Regions from separate parts of the Homo sapiens genome. Here region 1 is linked to region 2. The links come from fine-mapping of genetic effects on gene expression. A gene starts in region 2. The other region holds a variant in brackets. All regions are shown on one strand. Distances are from middle to middle. Region 1 overlaps PLCG2 (phospholipase C gamma 2). Region 2 holds the start of PLCG2 (phospholipase C gamma 2).

Region 1 (8,334 bases), 150 kb after region 2:
AGTCTTGGCTTAATCTAAAAGGCATGTCCTTTCTTTGTTGAGGAAATTGAGCAATATTGTGTCACTACAATATAGGGTCACTCCCACCCTAACCCTAAGCCTAACCCTAACCCCAGCGCTAAACCCTAGCCCCAAACCCTAACTCCTAACCCCTAACCCTTAACCCCAACCCAGGTACCCTTGGCTCTGACTAGGCCAGTTCTCCTTCACTCCCTGGTGGCTTTTTGGGGCCTTCGATCCTTTGCAATGCCAGTCCCTCTCCAGCAGATGACTTTGTAACCTTGGCCTGAAGCCTCCTGCTCCCCAATGAGAAGAACCAAATGGTACCTGGGAACGCAGCCGCCTCCCTCCCCTCCTGTCCCTGGCCTGACCTTTTCCTTCTTGTTTTCCCTGAAAGCCTCAGAGAACCGTGAAAGCTCTGTATGACTACAAAGCCAAGCGAAGCGATGAGCTGAGCTTCTGCCGTGGTGCCCTCATCCACAATGTCTCCAAGGAGCCCGGGGGCTGGTAAGGCTGAGTGGAGGCTGGGCTGCTCGGCAGGTGGGCTTGACTTGTCCCTTCTTGGTGATAAGACTCAGGTGCTGGCCAAGTCTGACCCCCTTTGTCATCCTGGGCTGGCTTTGACCTCTTGTGTTAAGTCCCTTCTTAGGAAGGTGGCTTGGTGCATGCTCTATTTGAGAAAATGGATAAACAACAATATTAACAGGTATCGACATATCATATCATATATTGTATATTATTATAATTACAACAGCAGCTACCATTTATTGAAGTCTTTCTAAGTGGCAAGCAGTCTGCTAATTGCTTTCCATGCATTGTCTAACCAAATCTTCAACCAAATCTTCATTACTCCCTGTGACAAAAGATGCGGCAAATGAGACTTTCCAAGTCACACAAATAAATACTAAATACTAAATAGTGCAGGCGCTTTCCAATACACAAGACTGTGTGTTATTTCCAATTCAAATTCGTATGCTGTTCCATAGTCCCGTGCTGTGTGCAATGGCCACATCCTGAATTGAAGACAATACGTTTTTCGTGCAAAGGTACCTGGGTATGCTAGGGTTTAGTTACCACTTCGCTTTTTAACCTTAGAAGAAAAATTCACTGCCCACTGATAGGTTTCTGGGGAAGTGGTTTTGTGGGGTGACTTCTGTCTGAGAGCAATAAGAACTTGCTCATAATAGTGAGCACTGGTTTAAGCACCTCATAGACTGGCATTTCTGCCTCCCACAAGATAACTGGACCTGGCTTAGGAATCTGAATAGCAGCATGCATGGAGTGCTTCTATGTGTCAAGCACTGTTTTAAGCACGTTTGAAATAACTCACTTCATTTGAAATAACTGAGTCTACATGATGACTGTAAAAGGTTGGTTCTGTTGTTACCTGCATTTTACCGATGAGGAAACTGAAGCCTTCAGAAGTGCAGTCACTTGTCCAGGGCCACATAGCAGGCTGAGATTTGAACCGCCAGGCCTTTTGACTCCAGAGCTTACACTCTTAACTCCATTCATCTGCTAAGTCCTTCCCTGTCCTCTTGCAAGATGCCTTAATCCAGGGATTATCAAACTTTTTCTTAAAATCAGGAGAACCTCATTGCAAACCAATTCATACCTAGATTCCACAGAATCAAAGATGCAGCCGAGTTACCCATTGAGCTGGAGTGGGGGCGTAGAATTGCCCTGTTTGGCCTCCTTGCTGACATTGCTGTTCCTACTGCAGCCTCTGATGCTTCCCCTTGGAGGCTCCCAGACCCAGTTGGGCAACCACAGTGTTGTCCGTCTGCTTCTCCCAGTTCAGAGGCTCGGCTTTGCCGAAGTCCCTCCACTCGAAGTGGCACAGAGTTGAGGTCTCTTCCAGGCACACTGGCGTTCCCTCACTGGGCTCCTGTCCCTGCCTTGGTCAACATCCTGGTGCGCACTGGGTGGGTGACTAACAACATTTTTGGAGTTGTGGCTGGAGCCCAGGTGACTACTCCAAATCACGGTTTTCCATTCTGTGTGAGATGGCCTCATGCCTTTCTATGCCTCTGACAGGCAGTTCTCTGAATTTCGAAGGCTCTTGTCTTAAGAGACTGTCAGAAGTCCCTTTGGCAAGGGACTGTGGGCAAACCGCCCAGCGGCTGTGGTCAATTCCTCTCTCTGATGGCAGTAGTGCTACCTAGGGGGCCGCCTGGGTGAAACCGGCTTTTTTGCATACTTCCAAACTGGTTCCCTGTAGCTAGGGGACCAAACAATTATTGTCTGAACCAAGATGCTCCTGAGAGTGAAGAGAATGTAAAGTGCTCAGTCCTGGACAGATGGTATATATGATCGCCGTAAATACAGCCAGCCCTTGCCAGAAGTGGGTCTGGAGAAATGGTGCGGGGGGGCGTGAAAAGGGCTTACAACCCGCAGTCCTGTGTCTCTGCTAGGTGAATTGGTAGCATCAGTCCTCACTCTGCTTATTCAGACCAAAAAATTGTTAAGTTCTTCCCACCACCACGGAGCACAGACTTGATTAAGATCCAGAAAGGTCAGCCGGGTGCAGTGACTTGCGCCTGTAATCCCAGCACTTTGGGAGGCCGAGGCGGGTGGCTCACTTGAGGTCAGGAGTTTGAGACCAGCCTGGCCAACCTGGTAAAACCCTGTCTCTACTAAAAATACAAAAATTAGCCAGGCATGGTGGCCCATGCCATAATCCCAGCTACTGGCGGGGCTGAGGCAGGAGAATTGCTTGAACCTGGGAGGCGAAGGTTGCAGTGAGCTGAGATCGTGCCATGCACTCCAGCCTGGGGGACAGAGTGAGACTCTGTCTCAAAAAAAAAAAAAAAAAAATCCAGAAGGATATCATATAGAGGGGAAGACAGATGTATAATTATACGTTAAGTATAAGATGTGGCTGCTTGGATGACTGTGGGGACAGGATGCCAGGGGACCACAGAGGAAGAGTGCTCAGCCTAGGGGGCAGTCAGGGAAGACTCCGTGGGAGAGGAAATGCCCAAGCTGAGTCTTAAATTAGTGGGGGGAAGTTGGGTACCAAGGGCATGGGCCAAGGCATGGAAGCTAGGCAGCATGGCAGGGGCATGATAGGGACGACGGGCCAGCTGGAGTCAACATCATGGAGAGTTAGGAGGTGATGTCTGGGAGTCCTGGGGTCAGACTGTGCTGGGCCGTGGCTGCCATGTTGAAGAGTCTGGGCTGGATTCTGGAGGCCCTGGGGAGCCATCATGTGGTGTGGTCAGAGGTGCATTTTGGAGAGTCCCTGGCTGCGGAAAATAGCTCAAGAGATGGGCAGGTTGAAGGAGGGCGTTTGCATGTCTGGGCACGGCCTTGCCGGGAGGAATCTTAGAGGTGCTCACCGTCTGGTGGGGTCCAGGAACATTCATAGATGGATTATGTCCCGTGTTGTTAGTGTTGTTATAAAGATAGGGAACAATGTTTTAGCTGAATAATAATAAGAGCTAACACTATTGAGTATTTACTGTGTACTAGGTAGGCGCTGTCCCAAGCACTCAGCTTATGTTAATTTAGAGTCCTAATAAAACCCTCTGAGGGAAGCACTCACGTTTATGCATTTTTCAGATGGAGAGTTGGAGGCACAGAAAGCCTCCACCGTCAGTGGTAGAGCTGGAGTTTAATTCCAGCCTGTCTGCCTCCAGAACCACCTTCTCTCTAAATTCACAACCTCCCCGAAATAGGGGTGAACTTTTGTCTTGTATGGTCTCTGACTTCCACGTAAAGCATGGAAACTTTTGACTTGTGATCTTTGATTAAACATTAAGATCATGTGATGGGGGTAAAATCAGCCCCCAGTAACTCATTAGTAATTAAAAAATAAAAAGACAGCAGTTGCCTTTGAGATGCTCCATTGTCACAGATAGTGACACTGGTCACTTGGCCACTTGCTGTCTGTCCCCATCAGAATTGAGCCAGCAGCCGGGTGCAGATGAGCAGTAGTGGGTAATTCATGCCACCTGGTGACAGCGCCCCCATGTCCTCTCTTCTTATCCAGGTGGAAAGGAGACTATGGAACCAGGATCCAGCAGTACTTCCCATCCAACTACGTCGAGGACATCTCAACTGCAGACTTCGAGGAGCTAGAAAAGCAGGTGAGTCCCCCTCTTCGATCCTCTTACAGGAAGAAGGGATCTGCAGGTCCAGTTTTTCAGGGAGCTGTGCCATCTCAGTGGGTGAATTTTTCCATGTGCTGCTTGTGGTCTCTGTGGAGCTCTGGATCAGGGAAGACACAGTGATGATAGGGAAATTGAGATTGAGTTGTTGTGGGTGAGTTGCTGTGACAAGCCGGCCGTGTTTTAATCAGGTTGTGTTGGGCTTGGAAGGATTTCATTATGCAGGAGAATTCCCGCTGGAGTGAAAGTGACCAAATGGGGAATTTGTCCTTTGCTTAAGCAACTTGCAGATGAAACACATTTATATTGGACAGCCAGACATTGAGAACGTGCTTGGGGCGAGTAAGCAAGTGGGCCTAACCAGAGGTGAGATGAGGCCTTCCTGGTGACTTTGCAAACCTGGTGGTTGTTCCCTCGCCGCCTCTTGTTTAGAGAGCAGCCACTTTCAGCGTGCTAGCACTCCACCAAGGATGATATCTTTGTAATGAGGATTTTAAGATCCCGTTAGACCCCCAGGTGTTTATTTTCTAAGGGATGTAGGGCAATCTGGGAAGGCTTCCTGGAGGAAGGAGTATTTGACCCTTAAAAGTCAAGTTAGAGTTCAACAGCAAGAGACTGGCAGAAGAGAGGTGCAAGTGGGAGGTACAGTCTAAGCAAAGGTGTGGCAGTGGGAATGTGGTTGTGTTCCGTGTGCTTGGGCTGAGGCAGAGACTGGAAGCCCTTGCTTCCTCTGTACTGAGTTGCCCTTACCTGTACATCAGCATTTACCTGGTGCAGGGGGTGGGGTTTGGGGTGGTGCAGGCAAGGAGTGGATGCCTGGTTCTGCCACCTCTCCTAAGCCCAGGATATTCTTCATCTCAGCCAGACCCTGGGATGGTTCAAGGGTGCAATGGGAGGCAGAGCTGGAAAGGGTGATGGGGGCTCTGAAAGTCTTAAAAGCCAGGTCATAGAGCATGGGTGTTGCTTCCACAGGACATGGGGAG[C/G]CACAGAAGGTTCTTGAGCCGGGCTTTAGTAGGCAAAATAGTCTCATTTTCTAATAAGGTCAGATAAATAGTCTAGGATGTGTTTGGAAACCAGATCTGAGGAAGCATTATGAAACCTGTTCTAGAATTCACAAGGCACGTTTTTACGGATTGGAAAATGAAACTCCGAACCTCCTGGCACCCTCTCCCCGCCAGGTCCCTATCAGCTCCATGCTTCATTATTTAGCTCTCTCCCCATGGACGTATCTGGTAATGAAAATGCATTTTAAACAGTTCCACAGGCAGTATCTCTGCTAAACGGTGTGCTTTGGAAACGGGTTTTCTTTTTATTATTCCCGTTACAACTAACGTGAGTTATGTCTTGTTTCTTCACAGATTATTGAAGACAATCCCTTAGGGTCTCTTTGCAGAGGAATATTGGACCTCAATACCTATAACGTCGGTACGTGCACACATCATCTTAGCCTGGATTTCCACCCCTATCCCCCATGGGCTGACCTCAGCCCCGCCCTACACAGGGAGGTGGCTGACACAGGGTCCTGTCTTGAATGCCAGCTCCTTCCCTGGCTGAAGCTGAGTATTTAGGTCAGGCTGGTCAGTGAGTATGATGCTATGTCTGCTATTAATCTCTACTAAAACTGTAAGTGCTAAAACAAGGTCTCGTACATAAGTGCTAGATGGTGGTTAGCGGATATTATTACCAGCGTCACTCTTATTATTTCAGGATCCATCTGTGTTTCCCATGCGTTGCGAAGGAAAGCTGAGCTGTCAGCCTGGCTGAAATGCAGCGTGGAGTTGGGAGTCTTGGGTTCTAAACCCAGCTCTGCCTCTCTGTCGCTGTGAGACTACAGGCCTGTCACTTCTCCTCTTTGAACCTCTGCTTCCTGGTTGCTCGGCTGGGGCCCAGGAAACCCAGCCCGCCCACGTTGACCATGCTGCAACGGGATGTGAAGGCGTGGCCCCAAGGCTAGGCTTGTCCAGTGGTGGCCAGGGTCTGATGTGTGCTGGGTTTCCTGGGTCTTGAGCCTGCCTGCTTTGAAGTGGGTGTGGTGCAGCTCCCATGTGAAGGGACTCTGTAGCGGGCCTCCTTGTTCTGGGCAGCCCATGACCCTCCCTGGGCAGGCACGGGCATGCTCCCCTAGGACTCAGGTGACAGCAGCCCCAGGAACTTCCTGCTTCTATTGCCAATGCTCTGCTTTACACATTCATTCATTTATTATTATTTCTTTTCGCGATAGAGTCTCGCTGTGTCACCCAGGCTGGAGTGCAGTGGCGTGATCTTGGCTCACTGCAACCTCTGCCTCCTGGATTCAAGTGATTCTCCTGCCTCAGCCTCCTGAGTAGCCGGGACTACAGGCATGGGCCACCGTGCCTGGCTAATTTTTGTATTTTTAGTAGAGCTAGGGTTTCGCCATGTGGGCCAGGCTGGTCTCAAACTGCTGACCTCAAGTGATCTGCCTGCCTTAGCCTCCCAAAGTGCTGGGATTACAGGCATGTGCCACCATGCCCAGCCTGCTTTCCACATTTATAACCTGCTTCTTTACCTTTACAATGATCCAGCAGGATAGGTAGGAGAGGGATTCTTTGCTCCGATTACCAGATGGGAAAATCAAGGTCCTAAGTGACCGACCACCACATGTGCTGAGGTCCTTTGGGCAGGGGGGTGCAGGATCCCTGCATCCACTTCTGGTGCTCTTTGTATCATCTTCCCCCATCCCTGTATCTGCAGAGCAGAGGCACATGGCTCATTGGTTCTGAGTAGAAATCTTGGAGTCAGGTTTGAACTGAGCCTCAGTTTTACTACTACTAGCTGTATGACTTTCCACATGTGACTTTCTCTTAATGAGCCTCAGTTTTGCCTCCTGCAAAATGGGCCTAGCAAAAGCAGGGTGCCTTTAGTCTCAGCTACTCAGGAGGCTGAGGTGGGTGGATCCCTTGAGCCCCAAGAGTTTGAGACCAGCCTGGATAATGTAGCAAGAGCTCAAAATTAAAAAAATAAAATAAAATAAAGATGCAATACATGTAATCTGCTTAGAATATTGCCTGGTATATAAGAGCTCAGAAATCTTAGCTACTAATATTATTTGGCAGATAAGTTTCCCTGTCATAATCTTTTCTTCTCTGTAAGATCCTTTCTCTGTGTCTGGAGAACCCACGCCACATTTCTCTCCTAGTTTCTGGTGACTCTTTGGTGTTTTTGGCTCATGGCTGCATTCTTCAGTCTCCACATTTGCCTGCACATGGCTTTCTCCCTTGTGTCTGCATCTGTTTTTAAAGCCATTTAGCTGGGTGTGGTGGCTCATTCCTGTAATCCCAGCACTTTGGGAGGCCAAGGTGAGTGGATCGCTTGAGCTCAGGAGTTCGAGACCAGCCCTGGGCAACATGGCGAAACCCCTCTCTACAAAAAATACAAAAATTAGCCAGGCTTTGTGGTGTGCACCTGTGGTCTCAGCTACTAGGGAGGCTGAGGTGGGAGGATCGCATGAACTTGGAAGGTGGAGGCTGCAGGGAGCCAAGATCGCACCACTGCACTTCAGCCTGGGTGACAGAGTGCCACCCTGTCTCAAAAAAAAAAAAAAAAGCCATTTAAATTATTTATTCTTTATATGTAAAAGATTATATGTAACAACATAGAAAATTATGCACAATATGCTAAGTGAAACAGTTCACAAAATTTTATGTATTGTATGTAAACATTTTGTAAAAATGCCAAGTTGCTTAGCTATATTTTAAATATTTTTAAAATGAACATGTATTGTTTTAGTAATTTGTAAAAAATATTTATGATGAGTGTAAAAAGCATTTTCTAATTGGTCAACCAAAAAGATATTCAGTGTTTCTTTTGATCAAGACGAACACATGTCTATAACTAAAGTGGACAAGAGGGTATTTTTTTCAGGTTCTCTCATGCATTTTAATGTTTGTTTTTTTTTCCTGCATCTTAAGTGTCCCTCTCCTTTCTCTTATAAGGATACTCATACTTGTTGGATGTTGGAATTGCCCTAAATCCAGGATAATCTCATATTGAGATCCTTAACCTAAGTACATCTGCAACGACCCTATAAGGTCCCATTCACAGGTACTGGTGACCTGACACATCTTTTCGGAGGACCCTACTGAATCTACTGCATCCCTTGAGTAGTCATCTGTGATGTGTACTTACCCCGATGGAAAGTAGACGTCCCCATCAGTGCTAACCGTGGTCATAGCAGTGGTGGTTGGTCCATGAGAGAAACAGC
Region 2 (8,334 bases):
AGGAAACTAGACTCAAGGGCTCCAGGGGGTTTTCTGGTCATTTTGGCTGTGGGGGTAGAGGGGTAGGGTTGGCGAGGTTCCCTGGGGCAGGGCGGTGGACCTCAGCCTGGTCACTGCCTTTGGAGGTGGTGGTGGAGGAGGGGAAAGGAGGTCTGGGTTTGAAATAACCCTCTAAGGGTGTTTTTTTTTTTTTGGTCAGGGTCTTACTCTGTTGCCCAGGCTGGAATGCAGTGGCACATGATCTCGGCTCACTGCCTGCAACCTCTGCCTCCTGGGCTTAAGTGATCCTCTTGCCTCAGCTTCCCGAGTAGCTGTGACTCAGGCTCACTCCACCAGGCCTGGCTAATTTTTAAAGTTTTTTGTAGAGATGGAGGTCTCATCATGTTGTCCAGGCTAGTCTTGAACTCCTGGGCTCAAGTGGTCCACCCTCCTTAGCCTCCCAAATAGCTGAGATTACAGGTATGAGCCAATGTGCCCAGTCCACAGATATTTTTCAAAACAGCTTTCTTGAGATATAATTCACATCCCATGCAACTCATGCATGTAAAGTGTACAGTACAGAGGCTTCAGCACATTCACAGAGCTGAGCAGCCATCGTCACAATCCATTTTAGAACATTCTTATCATCCCAAAGAGCAGCCCTGTACCCCTTATCTTTTACCTTCCGATAGGCCCGCTCTCTGCTTTCCTGGTCCTTGGCAACCACTGATCTACGTTCTGTCTCTGTAGATTTGCTAATTCTGCATATGCTATAGGTGGGTCTTATGATGGGGAAATTAAGTCCAAAGAGGGTGGCTGAGCAGCCCACAGCCATAAAACTAAGGAAGGGGCAGACTTGGAACTGGAGCCCAGATTCCTTGTTTCCAAGTTCATGCTTTCACAGGAGGTCTTCTTCTTCCCAGTAACAATTCCTAAAATAGTCAGCCTTGGTTTTGCCCCATGGGGATGAGGGCTTTACCTCCCTCATCTCACAGTCCCCCTCAGATGTAGGTACATTTCTGATACCCATAGGTATAATAATGAGGAAACTGATACCCAGAGAGGCTAATGGTCCAATGCACCATGGCTGCCAGCAAAGAGAAGAGGGTAATAGGGAAAAGCATTTGTATGCCCAAGGACTGGTGAGCAACACAGAATACAAAGAGTCAAGATGATTCAGCTTAAAATGTAATTTTCTTTCAGGTTATTCTTTCTTACCTATCCACTTCCCTTTTTCTTTCTTTTGTAGGAAAAGGAAAAGAAAGATCCCTCTACCCTTTGAGGTCACTTCCTGACCCATTTGTGCATCTATGTAGAGTGGTTACAAACTCACATCTCCCTGCCTGAATGCCTCTTATTAATCTGGGGATGGGTGGCAGGTCAGCATGCCCATGGGCTCTGACACCAGACAGGCTGAGGTTCAAATCCAGCCCCCACCACCCACTGACTTAACCCACTCTAGCCCTCTGACAGCTAACCTGTGACAGGGCCTTTCTACCTCATATGTCTGAACCCACAGAGTGGTTTCTTTCTCTCTCTCTCTCTCTTTCTTTCTTTTTTTCCTTCTTTCTTTTTTGTTTTTTTTGACGGAGTCTCACTCTGTTGCCCAGGCTAGAGTGCAGTGGTACAATCTCGGCTCACTGCAAGCTCCACCTCCTGGGTTCAGGCCATTCTCCTGCCTCAGCCTCCTGAGTAGGTGGGATTATAGGCACCCACCACCAGGCCAGGCTAATGTTTTTGTATTTTCAGTAGAGACGGGTTTTCACCATGTTAAGCAGGATGGTCTTGATCTTCCAACCTCGTGATCCGCCCGCCTCAGCCTCCCAGGGTGCTGGGATTACAGGCGTGAGCCACCGCGCCCGGCTCAGAGTGGTTTCTTTCCCTACCTATTTTATTCCATGGAAAAGAAAGAATACACAGAATGGTTCCTTCCCCACCTATTATCCTTGGGAAAAGAAGTGTCATTTTACATTAGAGTCCTCCCAGAACAGCGCCTGCCGCCTTGATGATGACGACGATTGTTAATTCTGAGATGGAGTCTTGATCTATCACCTATGCTGGAGTGCAGTGGCACCATCTTGGCTCACTGCAACCTCTGCCTTCTGGGTTCAAACGATTCTGCTACCTCAGACTCGTGAGTAGCTGACACTACAGGTGTGTGCCACCATGCCTGGGTAATTTTTGTATTTTTAGTAGAGAGGGTGTTTTACCATGTTGGCCAGGATAGTCGTGAACTCCTGATCTCAGGTAAGCCGCCTGCCTTGGCCTCCCAAAGTGCTGGGATTACAGGTATGAGCCACTGCACCTGGCAGATTATTTTTATTTTGAACAACCAAGTTAGAGTTTGAGAAAGAGATGAAGGGCCTCCAGTACTCTCTTTCAATCCACTGATTCCTTCAGTCGTTCACCTGGGGGGTGGGGTTGGGCTAGGGGTTGGTTAGCAAAAAATGAGCCAAAGAAGAAAATGAATTAAAAACATGAAAGAAAAAAAAGCAAACTGCCATTTACGATGACCATTATCTCACACACAGTGGACATTTTAACTCAAAAATACTATAGGCTCACAGGCATAGATTAAACAGAGAAACCTGTTCTTCATGTTCTTATTTTTTTGCTTGCTTCCCACAGATGAGAGAAAAATCCAGCCAGAATTGGCATCTGTCAAGATAGGCTTTTAGGAGCCACGGCTCCCTAGAGTGGTCTCCACACATTCTGATTATATGCAATCTCATTTTGCCATCAAGAGACTTAACCCACTCCCCTATCCATGTAGACTTTGTAATAATAAATTATACATATATATGACTGAACTAATATATTATGTACTTTATATAACACATACTAAAACAAAAGTGTGAAAAAGATTGGTTGAAATAAATACAAGCTGAAGTTCTAAAAAAAAAAAAAAAAAAAAAGTGAGGCAAAGGAATTGCCCCTAGATGTAGTCATTTTTCCTGGGGAATTGGCCCAATGACTTCAAGTGGTTGATGTCATAATGAGTCCTTCCAAGATCTCTTTAAAAAATTGATGTGTTAAGTGATCTGTGGTGATGAGCACAGCTATACACGCCAGTTGGGAGTGCTGAAAGAAATGAATCCACAGATCTTGTGAAGTCACAAACGAGTCCTATGGCTTGGGATACAACATTGACAGTGAGAGTGATATTCCTCAATTAAAAAACGCTATAACAGGCCGGGTGCAGTGGCTCATGCCTGTAATCCCAGCACTTTGGGAGGCCAAGGTGGGTGGATCACTTGAGGTCAGGAGTTTGAGACCAATCTGGCCAACATAGTGAAACCGCGTCTCTAGTAAAAATACAAAAAATTAGCCAAGCATGATGGCATACACCTATAATCCCAGCTACTCAGGAGGCTGAGGCAGGAGAATCGCTTAAACCTGGGAGGTGGAGGTTGCAGTGAGCCGAGATCGTGCCACTGCACTCCAGCCTGGGCAAGAGAGCAAGACTTTGTCTCAAAAAAAAAAAAAAACAAAAAAAAAACAAAAAAAAAAACAAAAAAAACCAAAAACACACACACACAAAAAAAACGCTATAACAGACCAGTGGCACATGCCTGTGATCCCAGTGCTTTGGGAGGTAGAGGCAGGAGGATTGCTTGAGGTCAGGAGTTCAAGAACAGCCTGGGACACATAGTGAGACCTCATGTCGAAAAAAGAGAAAATTAGCCAAGTGTGGTGTGCCTCTATAGTCCCAGCTCTTCAGGAGGCAGAAGCAGGAGGATCGCTTGAGTCCCGGAGTTCGAGGATGTGGTGAGCTATGATGGCACCACTGCACTCCAGCCTGGGTGACAGAGTGAGACCCTGCCTCTTAGAAAACAGAAGCTATAACTCAAGCAACTTGGAAGTGAAATTCAAGTGCCTGACAGCTGTCTAGGTGCCCCTGAAACTGCCTCTAGTCACAACAAAGATACCTCCATCAAAGAGCATAGGAAGGGTTTGAATCAGATAGCTTCATGCAACACACGAACGGAAAAATAAATTTCTTAAAGAACATATTAGCTTCTTCCCATGAGATCAGGAAAACGGGACATCAATTGTCTGGGGTTCTTTGCTCCTGACTCCCTTTGGGGCTGGCACTATGTTGATCACGTTTTACAGATGGGGAAACTGAGGCTGTCGGTTTTTAAGTGGTCTGCCTAAGGTAGCAGTAAGGGTTGGTCTGACTCCAGCGCAGCCTCAACGAGGGCTTCAAATTAGGGCCATGAATTGGCAATTCCTGGCGGGTAATTGTGAAGAGTATATTTATTTTTAATTTTTATTTATTTATTTTTGAGACGGAGTGTCTCTCGGCCACACCCATCCTAGCTCATTGCTGTCTCGAACTCTCGAGCTCAGACGATCCTCCCGTCTAGGCTTCCCAAAGAGCTGGGATGACAGGCGTGAGCCCGGGCGCCCGGCCGGGAGTGTGTTAAGTATACGGCAAACACCTGGACTGCGGCCGGCTCTCCAGGAATGCCATGATATTGGGGAATTCCCTTTGCACCTGGCCAAGTGGCCTCGGGCAGGTAGCCTCCCCTCGGGTTGCCTCAGTTTCTTCTTTGGCACGCAGAGGCGGGGCTCCAGGCCTGGGCCGCTCCATGGCGGGGAGGGCGCGGGGACGCTGCACTCGGGGTGCGCTCCGAGAGGCGGACCCGGCTGGGCGCGCCTGGGGCGGGGCGAGGCGGGGCGAGGCTGGGCGGTGCGGGGGGCGGCCCCCGAGGATCACGTGGCGCGGCGCCGCGGCCGAAGCAGAAGTAGCGAGCGCCGGCGGCGGAGGGCGTGAGCGGCGCTGAGTGACCCGAGTCGGGACGCGGGCTGCGCGCGCGGGACCCCGGAGCCCAAACCCGGGGCAGGCGGGCAGCTGTGCCCGGGCGGCACGGCCAGGTGAGCTGCCCGGCCGGGAGCGAGGCAGGCAGGGCGCCCAGGGACCTGCGCCCCGCGGGGACCGGCTCCCAGGGCGCTGCGTCCGAGGGGGTCTGCGTCCTGGCTCAGCCGGAGCGGGCAGGGACGGGGCGCACCCTCGGGGACCCCGGCCCGCCGTGCCCGGGGTCCGTTTGGTGACGGCAGGGATCCTGGCCCAGCCGCTGGCCACTTCCTCACCCCGGGCCGGCGCCACCTCTCCGGTCCGTGCGGTGGGGCGGCCCCAGCTTTGAATGGGGACCGGGAGGAAGGTCAGGGGTCGTGTGGGGGCTGGCGTTCAAAACTCCTCTTTTCGAGCGGCTCTGCGTGGGGTGGCGCCGTCTCTCTTGACGGCCCTTGTGCCCAGAGCTCGCGGACGCTCGGAGCCACACTTCCCTGTCTCACTTCGGTGGTTGCGGGTGGCGGGTGGGAGCGATACCGCGGGAGGCGCAGTCCTTCCCGGAGACTTTTGGAGAGCTTGCAGGACACTCGCGATGCCCGCTCCGCAGCTGTCTGCGTAATTATGCGTGTGTCTGTGCGTGTTGTGTTTTGTTGTGTTTTGGAATCCCAAAGAGGGCATTACCCGCACAGCGCAAGAGTTCAGGTTAAAGACGTGCCCCGTTTGGACGGGGAGCTCCTGGATTCCAGCAGGACGGTGGGGCGGGGCTCTCTTGGTACCCTAATCTTGAACTAGGGTGAGAAACTATGGGGGGCGGGGTGGTAAAGGGGTGACATGGCGCGAGGGAAACAGGTGGCCTTGCCCGTCGGAACTTAATTTGAATTTCAGTTCCATCAGTGGGACCCTGGGCAAGTTGAAGAACCTTTTTGAGTCTGTTTCCCCCTCTGGATACTGGAGCCACCCAATTTTCCAGGGCTGTGTCGAGAATTGGGGCTTATTGCTGTTCCACGAGGTTCGCTGAGAATCGGGGCGCATCCATGGAGAGTCCTTGGGCAGTTCCTGACTCTCTGGTTCAAGGGCATTCTCTGGGGCATGGGCCCTCGTCCTTGACTACAGTTCTGCGGGGAAGTTTTACAGAATTTTGAAGTCTATGCCAGCCTCAAGCAGTTTCTCTTGCAAAGGTGTGTGTGCAGTCACGTGTATACCAGCTCAGGGACAATCGTCATTGTGAGCCTCACTGATGTTTAAGTCACCTAATGATGCAGCTGCCTTCCCCCACCAGCGACTGGAGTATGGGCAGTTCCTCTGGAAGTGGAAAAGCACAGACCCCATGAATAGCCCTTTTGCACTCATTGGGTAGAGTCAATGAAAAGCTGCTGGTGAGAAAACTTTTGAAAACATTTCTTGGTCAGGCACGGTGGCTCACACCTGTAATCCCAGCACTTTGGGAGGCCGAGCTGGGCTGATCACTTGAGGTCAAGCGTTCCAGACCAGCCTCACCAACATGGTGAAACCCCATCTCTACTAAAACTACAAAAATTACCTGGGCGTGGTGGTGGCCGCCTGTAATCCCAGCTACCCAGGAGGCTGAGGCAGGAGAATCACTTGAACCCAGGAGGTGGAGGTTGCAGTGAACCCAGATCATGCCACTGCACTCCAGCCTGGGTGACAAGAGAGACTCCATCTCAAGACAAACAAACAAACAAACAAACACACACAAACACTTCTTAATTTAGAAAACAGCAAGAACACAAAGAGAAAAATTTGCCCGTTACATCATCAGTTAATATAAATAAAGTCAAGTTGTATCCTCTACCCTCTCCCAGCCTCCGATAAATAGTAACCACTCTCCTGGATTTACCAGAAGATCACCTTTATAAAAAGGGAATTGTATTATACTCATACAGTTGCAACTATTGTCTGAAGCTATTTTTTTATTGACCTCACAAATCTTTCCAGATCAAATTGCTTATCTATCATCCTCATTCTTTCTGATGGCTACTGAGCGTTCTTCAGTGCATGTGCACCATTATTTATCCAGGAGGCCCCCCACATTGATGAGCAGTTGTTTTCTGTTTTTTTTTCTTTTTTTGTATTTCTATTGCAACTATTGCTTCCGTGATTTTCTGTCGTACATATTGCATCTTTGTGCATGTCTTTCTTTACATGTACAATTGCAGGATCGAAGCATATGCGTGTTTTGCTTTTTAGTAGCTGCTCACAGGTTGCCCTAAAGGAGCAGGGGTGGAATTTACACTCTCACTTGCAGTGGCTGACACCATTCCTTTGAAAATAGTGTATTCCCTCTAATGCTGCAGGGTGGGTGTAAGGTGCAGCAGTAATGTCCCTTGAACTGTTGGAGGGGCCCTTACCACTCAAGTATTTGCCTGTGCTCCATTTTAACACAATTGTCTTGTGGGATTTTTGGATGAAATCCTGTACTGGCTTACCATGCACAGAGCACTGAAGAGACAAAAACTTCCTTGATTTCTGGTTTTGGGTCCTCGCATCTCATTTCATGTCCTTTCCCCCCCCCCCCCCGCCCGCCCCCGAGACGGAGTCTTGCTCTGTCGCCCAGGCTGGAGTGCAGTGGCGCGATCTCGGCTCACTGCAAGCTCCGCCTCCCGGGTTCACGCCTTTCTCCTGCCTCAGCCTCACGAGTAGCTGGGATTACAGGCATGTGCCACCACACCCGGCTAATTGTTTTGTATTTTTTTTTAGTAGAGACGGGGTTTCATCGTGTTAGCCAGGATGGTCTTGATCTCCTGACCTCATGATCCGCCCACCTCGGCCTCCCAAAGTGCTGGAATTACAGTCATAAGCCACCGTGCCTGGCCCATTTTATGCCTTTCTAAATAAGCTTATGAGATACAAGAACATGAATGAGCTTATGAGATACAAGAAAAACCTTTAGAAGGACATGAAATGTAAAAATGGCAAAAATCAGTTATTCAAACTCAGCCATATTTGTATTTACAAAATAAGTCATTTTATAGAATTACCCATTAAGAATGGGAAACAGGAACAAAAAAGGGATTTCAAGGCTTTTTTTTTTCTTTTTTTGAAAAAACCAAAAAAAGCAGAAGCAAAATGGAAGTTGCTGTGGTGGCTGGTGCTCTCTCCTGGGCTCAAGGTCTTGGAGACCTCCCTGCCATAGTTGATAAAGCGTGGAACGCTGGAGACCTGAGCTGGGTGCTGGCAGGATTTGAATGGTGGACTCCAGGGATCTTTTGGCCGTGAAGATCTGTTTCCAATTGCATCTCATAAGCTCATTCATGTTCTTGTATCTCACAAGCTTATTTAGAAGGGCATTTCGTGAGATACAAGAACCCCAAACCAGAAATCAAGGAAGTTTTTCTCTTCAGTGCTCTGTGCATGTTAAGCCAGTACAGGATTTCATCCAAAATCCCACAAAACGATTCTGTTAAAATGGGGCACAGGCAAATACTTGAGTGGTAAGGGCCCCTCCAACAGTTGAATGGACATTACTGCTGCACCTTACACCCACCCTGCAGCATCAGAGGGGATACAGTGTTTTCAAAGGAACGGTGTCAGCCACT

Evidence for each region. PIP is the estimated chance that this variant, and not a neighbour inherited with it, causes the effect.
Region 1: its variant is fine-mapped to the expression of PLCG2 in whole blood (TOPMed, PIP above 0.99).

The regions. Positions count from the first base shown.
Region 1 is chr16:81,923,088-81,931,421 of GRCh38, forward strand. PLCG2 (phospholipase C gamma 2) reads left to right here. Exons shown (of 33, transcript NM_002661.5): 22 at 398-507; 23 at 3,995-4,091; 24 at 5,471-5,537. Among named protein-coding and RNA genes, the nearest start is that of SDR42E1, 84 kb to the right of the region's middle. The variant C/G (reference allele first, on the strand shown) is at 5,096.
Region 2 is chr16:81,774,565-81,782,898 of GRCh38, forward strand. It overlaps PLCG2 (phospholipase C gamma 2), which reads left to right and starts at 4,727. Exons shown (of 33, transcript NM_002661.5): 1 at 4,727-4,860. LOC105369213 (a long non-coding RNA gene) reads left to right here. Exons shown (of 4, transcript NR_189584.1): 4 at 2,608-2,789. RefSeq lists silencers at 4,220-4,514, 4,543-4,812, 4,843-4,942, 4,953-5,032.